Regions from separate parts of the Homo sapiens genome. Here region 2 is linked to region 1. The links come from fine-mapping of genetic effects on gene expression. A gene starts in region 1. The other region holds a variant in brackets. All regions are shown on one strand. Distances are from middle to middle. Region 1 holds the start of ARHGEF25 (Rho guanine nucleotide exchange factor 25). Region 2 overlaps OS9 (OS9 endoplasmic reticulum lectin).

What was found. PIP is the estimated chance that this variant, and not a neighbour inherited with it, causes the effect.
Region 2: its variant is the best candidate, but not a certain one, in a credible set for the expression of ARHGEF25 in unexposed skin (GTEx, PIP 0.50).

Annotation. Positions count from the first base shown.
Region 1 is chr12:57,608,636-57,613,017 of GRCh38, reverse strand. It overlaps ARHGEF25 (Rho guanine nucleotide exchange factor 25), which reads right to left and starts at 1,583. Exons shown (of 15, transcript NM_182947.4): 1 at 1,027-1,583; 2 at 1-88. The coding sequence starts at 1,123. DTX3 (deltex E3 ubiquitin ligase 3) reads right to left here. Exons shown (of 7, transcript NM_178502.4): 6 at 4,281-4,382; 7 at 3,216-3,941. The coding sequence ends at 3,866. RefSeq lists a silencer at 1,171-1,690.
Region 2 is chr12:57,698,874-57,703,255 of GRCh38, reverse strand. The region is part of intron 5 of OS9 (OS9 endoplasmic reticulum lectin); the gene reads right to left. Among named protein-coding and RNA genes, the nearest start is that of OS9, 6.9 kb to the right of the region's middle. The variant C/T (reference allele first, on the strand shown) is at 2,765.

The DNA of each region.
Region 1 (4,382 bases):
AGGCCAGAGCTGGGGCCAGAGGGGGCAGCCAGACCGGAGGCAGCAGAAGCCGATATACTCCCCTCACTGCCCGCAATGGAATAGGATTCTAATGGGAGGAAAAAGAGAGGAGGTGATAGACCTTGCCCCAGCTCCAGACTCAGGGTCCCCAGGGAACTCCCAGGGTCTTCTCTTCATGATGCTCAGCCTCTCTCTCCAAGGGCTCACTCTCTTGCCATCCTCATTTGAGTTGGCCAGGATAGAAAATTTCACCAGGGCACCCCTGGGAGAAAGCACAGTAAGGTAAACGCCTGGCTCTCCAGGCCTGGAACCCCCAGTTACATGTGGAGGTTCCCCATATCCTGAGCATAGCATAGATATGGGGGTGGGGGCAGCCATCTGGGCAGACATTGGAAGCTGGGGGTGGCCATCTGCTCTCCTACAACCCTCCCTCTTTCAATGGGTACAGACCATTCTCTGGGAAGAGGGGAGGATGAGCTGGGTCCATCTGCCACTCCCAGTCCCCTCCTCCACCAATTGCAGTAATCACTATAAAAAGAAAAGACTTCTGCAGCCCACCTCCCCAACACATGCGTAGACCCAATAGAGGAGGCCAGTGAGGAGGGTCCATCAGGGTTATCGTTGGCCTGTGCTCAGCGACAGAGAGCTGTGATTCCTTATAAAGCCCCTTGTAGAACCACCTCATTCTCATTCCTCCATTCTCCTGTCCCTCTTCAGAAGTAGATTCTTAGCAAAAGGTTTGAGGAAAATAATCGGTTCTAGGCCTAAGGGGATTGTGGGTGGGTTTTTCTCAAACCCATTTGACAAAGGGAAAGAGATGAGTTCCCTGCCCCTTCCCCTATTTCCTTAACTTGAACTAACAGAAATTTGGAGGCAGAAGGGACCTTAGGGATCACTTAAGAAACCACTTTCCTGGAAAACACATACAGTCTCCAACCCTAAATCCCAAGGGCCAGGGCAAACAGATGCCCTGAACCCCCAGCCCGCCCCCCACTCAACACTGGACCCTCTCGACCTGGCACTCACCACGTCCCCCCCGGGCGAAGCAGCAGCCGCATTTTGCCAGCACTTTTCGGATCACACGGGGACAGGCACAGCGACCCCCTTTGTGCCCCCCCCGCATGGCGCCCGGGCCCCCCCGCGCCCCCCACCCGGGCCGGCCATGCAGGGGGAATCACGGGGGGCGGGGCGGGGACGGCGCCGGGCGCACACCCCCCCTCCCTCCTACCCCGGTCCAGGCTGTGGGAGGGGGGGAGGGAGGGGACCGGGAGGAGGTGTCCAGGGGTAGGCGGAAGTCTAGTCTTGAGGAGGGCTGGGGGCTCTAGAGAGAGAGAGGCGCGGGGCCCGGCCGCCGGGCTGGGCGGGGAGGGTTTCCGGAACCCTGTCGGTGCGGGGGCCTAGGGTCCAGATGTCCAGTGGAAGGGGGAGGGATGGTAGGGGAGGCTGGGCCGGGATGCGGCAGCCGCTCCAGCTGTCTCCGGCCTCTGGTTAGGGGTGGCTCTAGGCCCGGGCCGGGGAGGAGGCGAGGGCCGACCCCCGAGCCACTGGCGCTGTGCGGGTCCCAGCGGAGCGGAGAGCTGAATAACAGGCCTGGCCGCGGGGCCGCCACGAGGCGGGGCCTCTGCGGCCCAGCTCCGCCCTCTCCATCGCGTTCCCCCTCCTGCCTGCGCCGGGTTCCCGCCCCGATCGCCCCTCCCCCAGACACCACCACGTTCCCACTCCACGTCCCCAGCGCTTTTTCCCCTCCCCAGCCCGTGCTCCCCTGCCCCGGGGTCCCCCTCCCTCTCGCATCCCGGGCTCTGCGGAGCGCTGGGGTCGGGGTTCAGCCTGTCTGCAGGGTCTGCCCAGGTCTCCCCTTGGCCTCTGCGATGAAGGAGGACTCAGTGGATGGGGCCTTGGCCTGTGCGAAGATGTTCTGGGTTTGGGGCTGTCCCCGGCCGAGTGGACAGAGGCCCCCTGGTACGGGGTGCGTGTATGGGGAGTCTTTTGTGGGTGAACACAACCCAGATGCCGCCCTCTCTCAGGACCCTTCTTTCCTCCAGGCCCCGGGACTCCAGCTAAGACTAATCGCCAATTAAGGCGAAGTCCTGGAGCCCGGGCTGGCGAGGGGCCAGGGGTGGGGCGCGGGGACACTCTGCCTGCGAGGGCTCGGGATCGACTGGGATGGGGGACACACATTGGACTCGAAGGCAAGAAGAGTGGAGGTCTCTGCGATTAAATGGGTCTCATGCAAATTAGATGCGAACTTTATGCTAATAAGAATAGAATATTTTTGAATTCGCCACTTGGCGCAGGATAGCAAACTGTGCCCCACCCCACCCCCAGCTTCTTACCGGGCTGCAGAGCCCCGGCGAGGACCTCATGTTCGCGATCCCTTCTGTGATCTCCCTCCGTACGTTCAGACTCTGGCTCGGTACCCACCAACCCTAGAGGGCTTCTCCTTGGGGGCTGCGGGGACAGAACCACTGTAAGGAACCTGCCCTCCTAGGCAGCCCTGACCTCCCCCTTCCCCTTCTCCTACCTGTCAAAACCCACATTGTTATAAAAGGCTCGCCCAGAACGGGGCTATGGCCCTCGTAATAGAATTCATGTATTCCTGCGACTGCCCCGCAGAACTCGTTTTCGGATAAGTTGAGTTGTGGGTGCAGCCCTCCTGAAGGCCCCGAAAGACCCCCGACCCCACCGCGAGCCCCCATTCTTACCCCCTCCTGCCCAGGGAGGGCGCATGCGCGCAGCATGCCCCCCATGACCCCCAGTATCCGGTCAGTGCGGCCAGGGGCGGGGCGGTCCGGGGGCTTCATACTGAACCCCCACCCTGCTCCAAGTTTCAGGGTCGAGGGGGCACTGAAGCTGGGGGGCTTTGAGGCCTGCGCGCGTCCGGGGAGTTGCTGCTGCGGAATCCGCCCCCTGCCCGGCTCCGCCCCCACTCCCACCCCAGCCAAACTTCGCAGAGTGGCTAGGGTTGTTTTCTCTACAACCATAGTTGAACAACAAAAAAACACCCTCTTAATACTAATTCCAACATCGAAGTGACCCAGGGTTTCTCAGTGTTACTACAGAGCCCGCTGGTGCATCCCGTTTCCCCAGGTCCTCAGGAGGCAGAGGGACTGGGAGTGCACGCAGGGATCACCCCATCATCCCCTCTCCCCTTTCCAGCAGGTCCCTCTCCCCACCCCACCCCCACCCAGTCCCTGGAAAAGAACGGGTGTGGCATAAAGAGTTGCATATTTTACTTTATTTTTATTAAATTAAAAGCTACAGTCTGGCAGCGATTCCAGAACAGGGTAAGGAGGTTCCTCACAGGGGTCAGAGAAGAGCGGAGAAAGACAGACTGACGGAGACTGAGACACAGGAGAGAAAGGACAAGGTTAAGGGAGAACTGTATCTGATGAACACACACAGCCGGCTCCATGGCGGGTGACGGGGAGCTCACATCAGCCCAATTTCTCCTCCCCGGCACCCGAAGTTCAGCGGTGGAGCAGTATGTGGGGGCGGTTAGGAATCAAGAGACCCTCCCTTCCCCACCCTAGGTCCTTTCTCGGCTTGGTCGTGGAGCACAGCACATACCAGAAAAAGCCAAGGGCAATGGAGGGGCAGGGAAACCGGGAGTATATGTACACGGGGAGGGGAGAACAGAGCCTTGGAGGTCGGCCTCTGCCAGAAGGGAGTGGCTCACACTGCATTGAAACACTTGGCCAGTGGGGGATGGGGGAAGGGATTGCCCCCTCCCTCTCGGAACTCCCTTCCCAGTCAGACAGGTCCCCTACAGGTGTGGTGTGGGGGGCAGGGGGCAGAGAGGAGAAAGAGGCTTCTGCTGGGTCCTAGTAGAGGCAGACAGCAGGGGCCTTGGCAAAGGCGATGTCCTTCAGTCATCTGTGATACCCTTCGCTCTCAGCTCCTCTTGCACCCGGGTCAGGTAGGTGGGGTCTGGGTACCCAAACCTGGGAGCAAAGAGAAATGAGGGTGAGGGTTGTTAGCTGTTTGAACTTGCTATTATCCCCATGCTCACCCTCATTCTAGGTGGCTCAGACACCTCCCCACCTCCCCTAAGGGAGGACACCTCCAAATCCAAGATAATTTAGCCCAGTTCTGCTTATTTTTGTAGGCTAAGCTGGGCACACCAGGACCAGGTTGAATGTAGGAGAAACTGAGATGGCTGAACAGTTTGGAAGTGGTTCTCTCCAGTTAGGAGGCTCCGTGAGCGAGGGGTTGGTGGGTCCCTCAGTGGAAATGGAACAAAGGGGAGGAGCCAAGGGAAAGGAAATGAAGAGGGGTCGCACAGCTGGGGTCCCCCTGTGCAGCTGGTCTTGTGGTGGATGTCGTTCCAGGTGATGACATTCGGTCTCCCTGTGGTCATGGACGTGCCGATAGTGAAGGTGAGA
Region 2 (4,382 bases), 90 kb before region 1:
TCAAAGACCTAAATTTAAGAGCTAAAACTATAAAACTCTTGGAAATCAAAATTAAAAGCTTTTGTGCACCAAAGGACACTGCTGATGCAGGAGAATCGCTTGAACCTGGGAGGCGGAGGTTGCAGTGAGCTGAGATCGCGCCATTACACTCCAGCCTGGGCAACAAGAGTGAAACTCTGTCTCCAAAAAACAAAGCAAAACAAAAGATAGTAAAAAGGCAACCACAGGATGGGAGAAAATACTTACAAATCATAGATCTGATAAGGGATTAATATTCAGAATTTATTACATAAAGAACTCTCACAACTCACCAACAAAAACCAACTCAATTCAAAAATGGGCAGAGGATTTGAATAGACATTTCTCCAAAAAAGATATACAAATGGTCACCAAGCATATGAAAAGATGTTCAACATCATTAATCACTAGGTAAATGCAAATCAAAAACCACTATGAGATACTACTTCACACCCATTAAGATGGCTATTACTGAAAAAAAAGAAAAAGAAAACAAAGGAAAATAAGTGATGGAGGTAGTGTGGAGAAACTGGAACCCTGTGCACTGCTACTAGGAATGTAAAATGATGCAACTGCTATGGAAAACAGTTTGGCAGTTCCTCAAAAAACTAAACCTAGAATTACCATAAGGCACATTCTACTCCTAGGTACAGACCCAAAAGAATTGAAAACAGGACTCAAACAGATACTTGTACACCAATGTTCATCGCAGCATTATTCACAGTAACCAAAAGATGAAAACCTATTTGTCCATCCATTGATAAATAGGTAAACAAAATGTATATACAGACAATGGAACATGATTAAGCCATAAAAAGAAATAAAATTCTGATATATGCTACAACATGGATGAACCTTGAAAACACCATGCTAAGTGAAATAAGCCAGACACAAAAGGACAAATCTTGTATGATTTCACTCATGTGAAGTACCTAGAACAGGAAACTCATACAGACAGAAAGTAGAACAGAGTCTGGGAGAGGGAGAAATAGGAGTTATTTTTGTTTGGGATGATGAAAAAAGTTTTGGAAATAGTAGTGATGGTGATAGAACACTGAATGTTTCCACTGAATTGTACACTTAAAGACTGTTAGAATGATAACTTTTAGGTTATATATTTTTTCAATCATTAAAAAAATTGAGGGCCAGGCATGGTGGCTCACACCTGTAATCCCAGCACTTTGGGAGGCCAAGGTGGACGGATCACAATGTAAGGAGTTCAAGACCAGCCTGGCCAACATGGTGAAACCCCGTCTCCACTAAAAATACAAAAATTAGCTGGGCATGGTGGCAGGCGCCTGTAGTCCCAGCTACTCAGGAGGCTGAGGCAGGACAATCGCTTGATCCTGGGAGGCGGAGGTTGCAGTGAGCCAAGATCACGCCATTGCACTCCAGCCTGGGCAACAAGAGTGAAACTCTATCTCAAAAAACAAAACAAAACAAAACAAACAAAAAATTGAATTCACCAATAACATACACTCCTGTAACCCAGTGATTCTACTTTCTAGGTATTTCCCTGGAGAAATTCTTGTACACTCACAATAAGACCTACATTGCAGCACTGTGTATAAGGGCATTAGAGTTGAAACCCAACTGTTTATCAACAGAGGAATGGGTAAGTAAGCAATGAAACACAATACAGACATTAAAATCACTCAACCAGGCCAGGCACGGTGGCTCACACCTGTAATCCCAGCACTTTGGGAGGCCAAGGTGGGTGGATCACTTGAGGTCAGGAGTTCAAGACCAGCCTGGCCAACATGGTGAAACCCCTTCCCTACTAAAAATATAAAAATTAACTGGGCGTGGTGGTGGGCACCTATAGTCCCAGCTACTCAGGAGGCTGAGGCAGCAGAATCGCTTGAACCCAGGAGGCCGAGGTTGCAGTGAGCCTAGATTGCACTACTGTATTCCAGCCTGGGTGACAGAGCGAGACTCTGTCTCAAAAAAAAAAAAAAAAAAAAAAAAAAAAAAATCACTCAACCAGAGTTCCATGTCATGCCATTGAATGGCAAACACACTGATCAGTGAAAAAAACAAGTTGATACTCCTGATGTATAATTTTAAAACACAAAACACTATCTATTGTCTGTAATATATATATCAGTAATAAAAATACAAAACAAACATAGTGAGGGTTGTGGTTGTTTCTGGCGGGAGGGAGAGTGACTAAATATGAAGGTGGGCTTTAGCTATTAGCACAAGCATTTTATTCCTTTTTTTAAACCAGAGATCTGAAACAAATCAGGCAAAACATTAACATCTGTTTAACTTGGCAGTGAATTTATGGGTCTCTATGACATTTTTTTTTGTATAATTGTATGTTTTATAACTTAAAAAAATCTTTGATATCTCTAGAATCTTACTTTATAAGAATTGAGTTGGTCTACTACCCTAGACCTTCCTTTAGAGGCAAATTGCTCTCCCAGGGTTCTGCATCCCAGCCCTGTCCGCATTTTTTTCTCACTTTTTCTACTGTACCTTGATCTCCCTCTCCTCCTTTCCGCTAACATCCACCCAACAGCCTTCAACATGTTCTAGTCTGTTGCATCTTAAAACACACACCAATAAATAGGAATTTATTTAATTCCATATAGCTAACCAGTTGTTCCCTAGCCCCACAGAGACTGCACTTTAAACAACATGCACGCTGTTCCTATTGAGGAGGCATCAGGCCAGCAACACATCACAGTGCCTGCCCTGGAGTAGGGGCTTTACCTGATCACCTAGGCAAGTGGCATAAGAA[C/T]TGAAAACTAGAAGCAACCAGACAGGAATGGCCTCAACTTTCTGCCACCAAAACCTCCAGACTCACTAGCAAATACACCATTCCAGTTACGACCCTAGACCTTCCTTTTGAGGCAAATTGCTCTCCCAGGGTTCTGCATCCCATCCCTGTCCACATTCTTTTCACATTCTCTCTACTGTACCTTGACTTCCCTCTCCTCCTCTCCACTAACATTCACCCAAGTCTTCAACATGTTCTAGTCTGTTCCATCTTAAAACACACACCAACCACAGAATGCCCCCTCTCTCAACCCCCCAGCACCTCTCACTAATGCTTACCTTTTATCTCCCTTTCATATCCAAACTTCTTCAAAGATTTCCAGTTTCTTTTTCTTTTTTTCTTTTCTTTTTTTTCTTTTTTGAGACAGTCTCACTCTGTCACCCAGGCTGGAGTGCAATGGTGCGATATCAGCTCACTGCGACCTCCGCCTCCCGGGTTCAAGCAATTCTCCTGCCTCAGCCTCCCGAGTAGCTGGGATTACAGGCGCCCACCACCACACCCGGCTAATTTTGTATTTTTAGTAGACATGGGGTTTCACCATATTGGCCAGGCTGTTCTTGAACTCCTGACCTCAAGTGATTTGCCTGCCTTGGCCTCCCAAAGTGCTGGGATTATAGGCATGAGCCACCGCGCCCAGCAGAGTTCCACTTTTTCACCACTTTTCTCAACACCTCATCTTCACAACTCTGCTCAAATTGCCCCAGCAAAGATCACCAATGATCTCTATCATTAAGTCCAACCAAAGGACTGGTCAGGGGTGCCTGGAAGTAGAGAATTTATACTTTCCATCTGGCTCTCTTCTCTACTGTCTGAATTTTTTATTTCCATGTACATGTTTTGCCTTTATTAAAATAATAATGACTATGATTGCCTATAAGCAGTTTTTAATCCTCCTCTTCCTTGAAGGTTCAGGCACAGCCAACACCATGGACCAATTTCCCCTTCAAATGTGTCCTTCCTCGTTTCCATGTCACCATAGCCTCCTCTCTGGCCCTTTCTTCTGGCAAAACCCTCTTCTTCCCATGCTCTTAGTGATGGCTTCCTTGAAGTTCCATCCCACTTTTCTCATTAGATACTGTTTTCTTTGGGGGATTTCATCCATACCTTGGCTTCAGTTATGGCTGATACAAGGACAACTCCCCACCTCTGGGTTCAATTCAGATCTCTCTGCTGAACTCCAGACCCAGAGATCCACAGCCCCCTTGGAAATCTCTACTTGAATGCCTAGCAGCCACTAAAATCATATTCAAAGCCAAACTCACCATTTTCCTTCACCATACCTACTCCTCTTCTCATTATACCTATCTCAGGAACACGAATCACCCTCTATCTAACTGCACAAGCCAAAAGCCTGGAAATCATTCTTGACTCCTTCTTACTCTGTTGATTTTACCCCCTAAATCTGTCTCTAAATATTCACATTTCTTCATCCCCAGGCCACTTTTATTTCACACCTGGATTACCACAGCTGCCTAAGTGAGCTCTCAATCTTTGCTATACTCCAGCTAGAGTGGGCCTTCAATTCCAAACCTGAATATGTCATCATTCTGCTTCAAATACCTCATTGCCTCCCCTAACC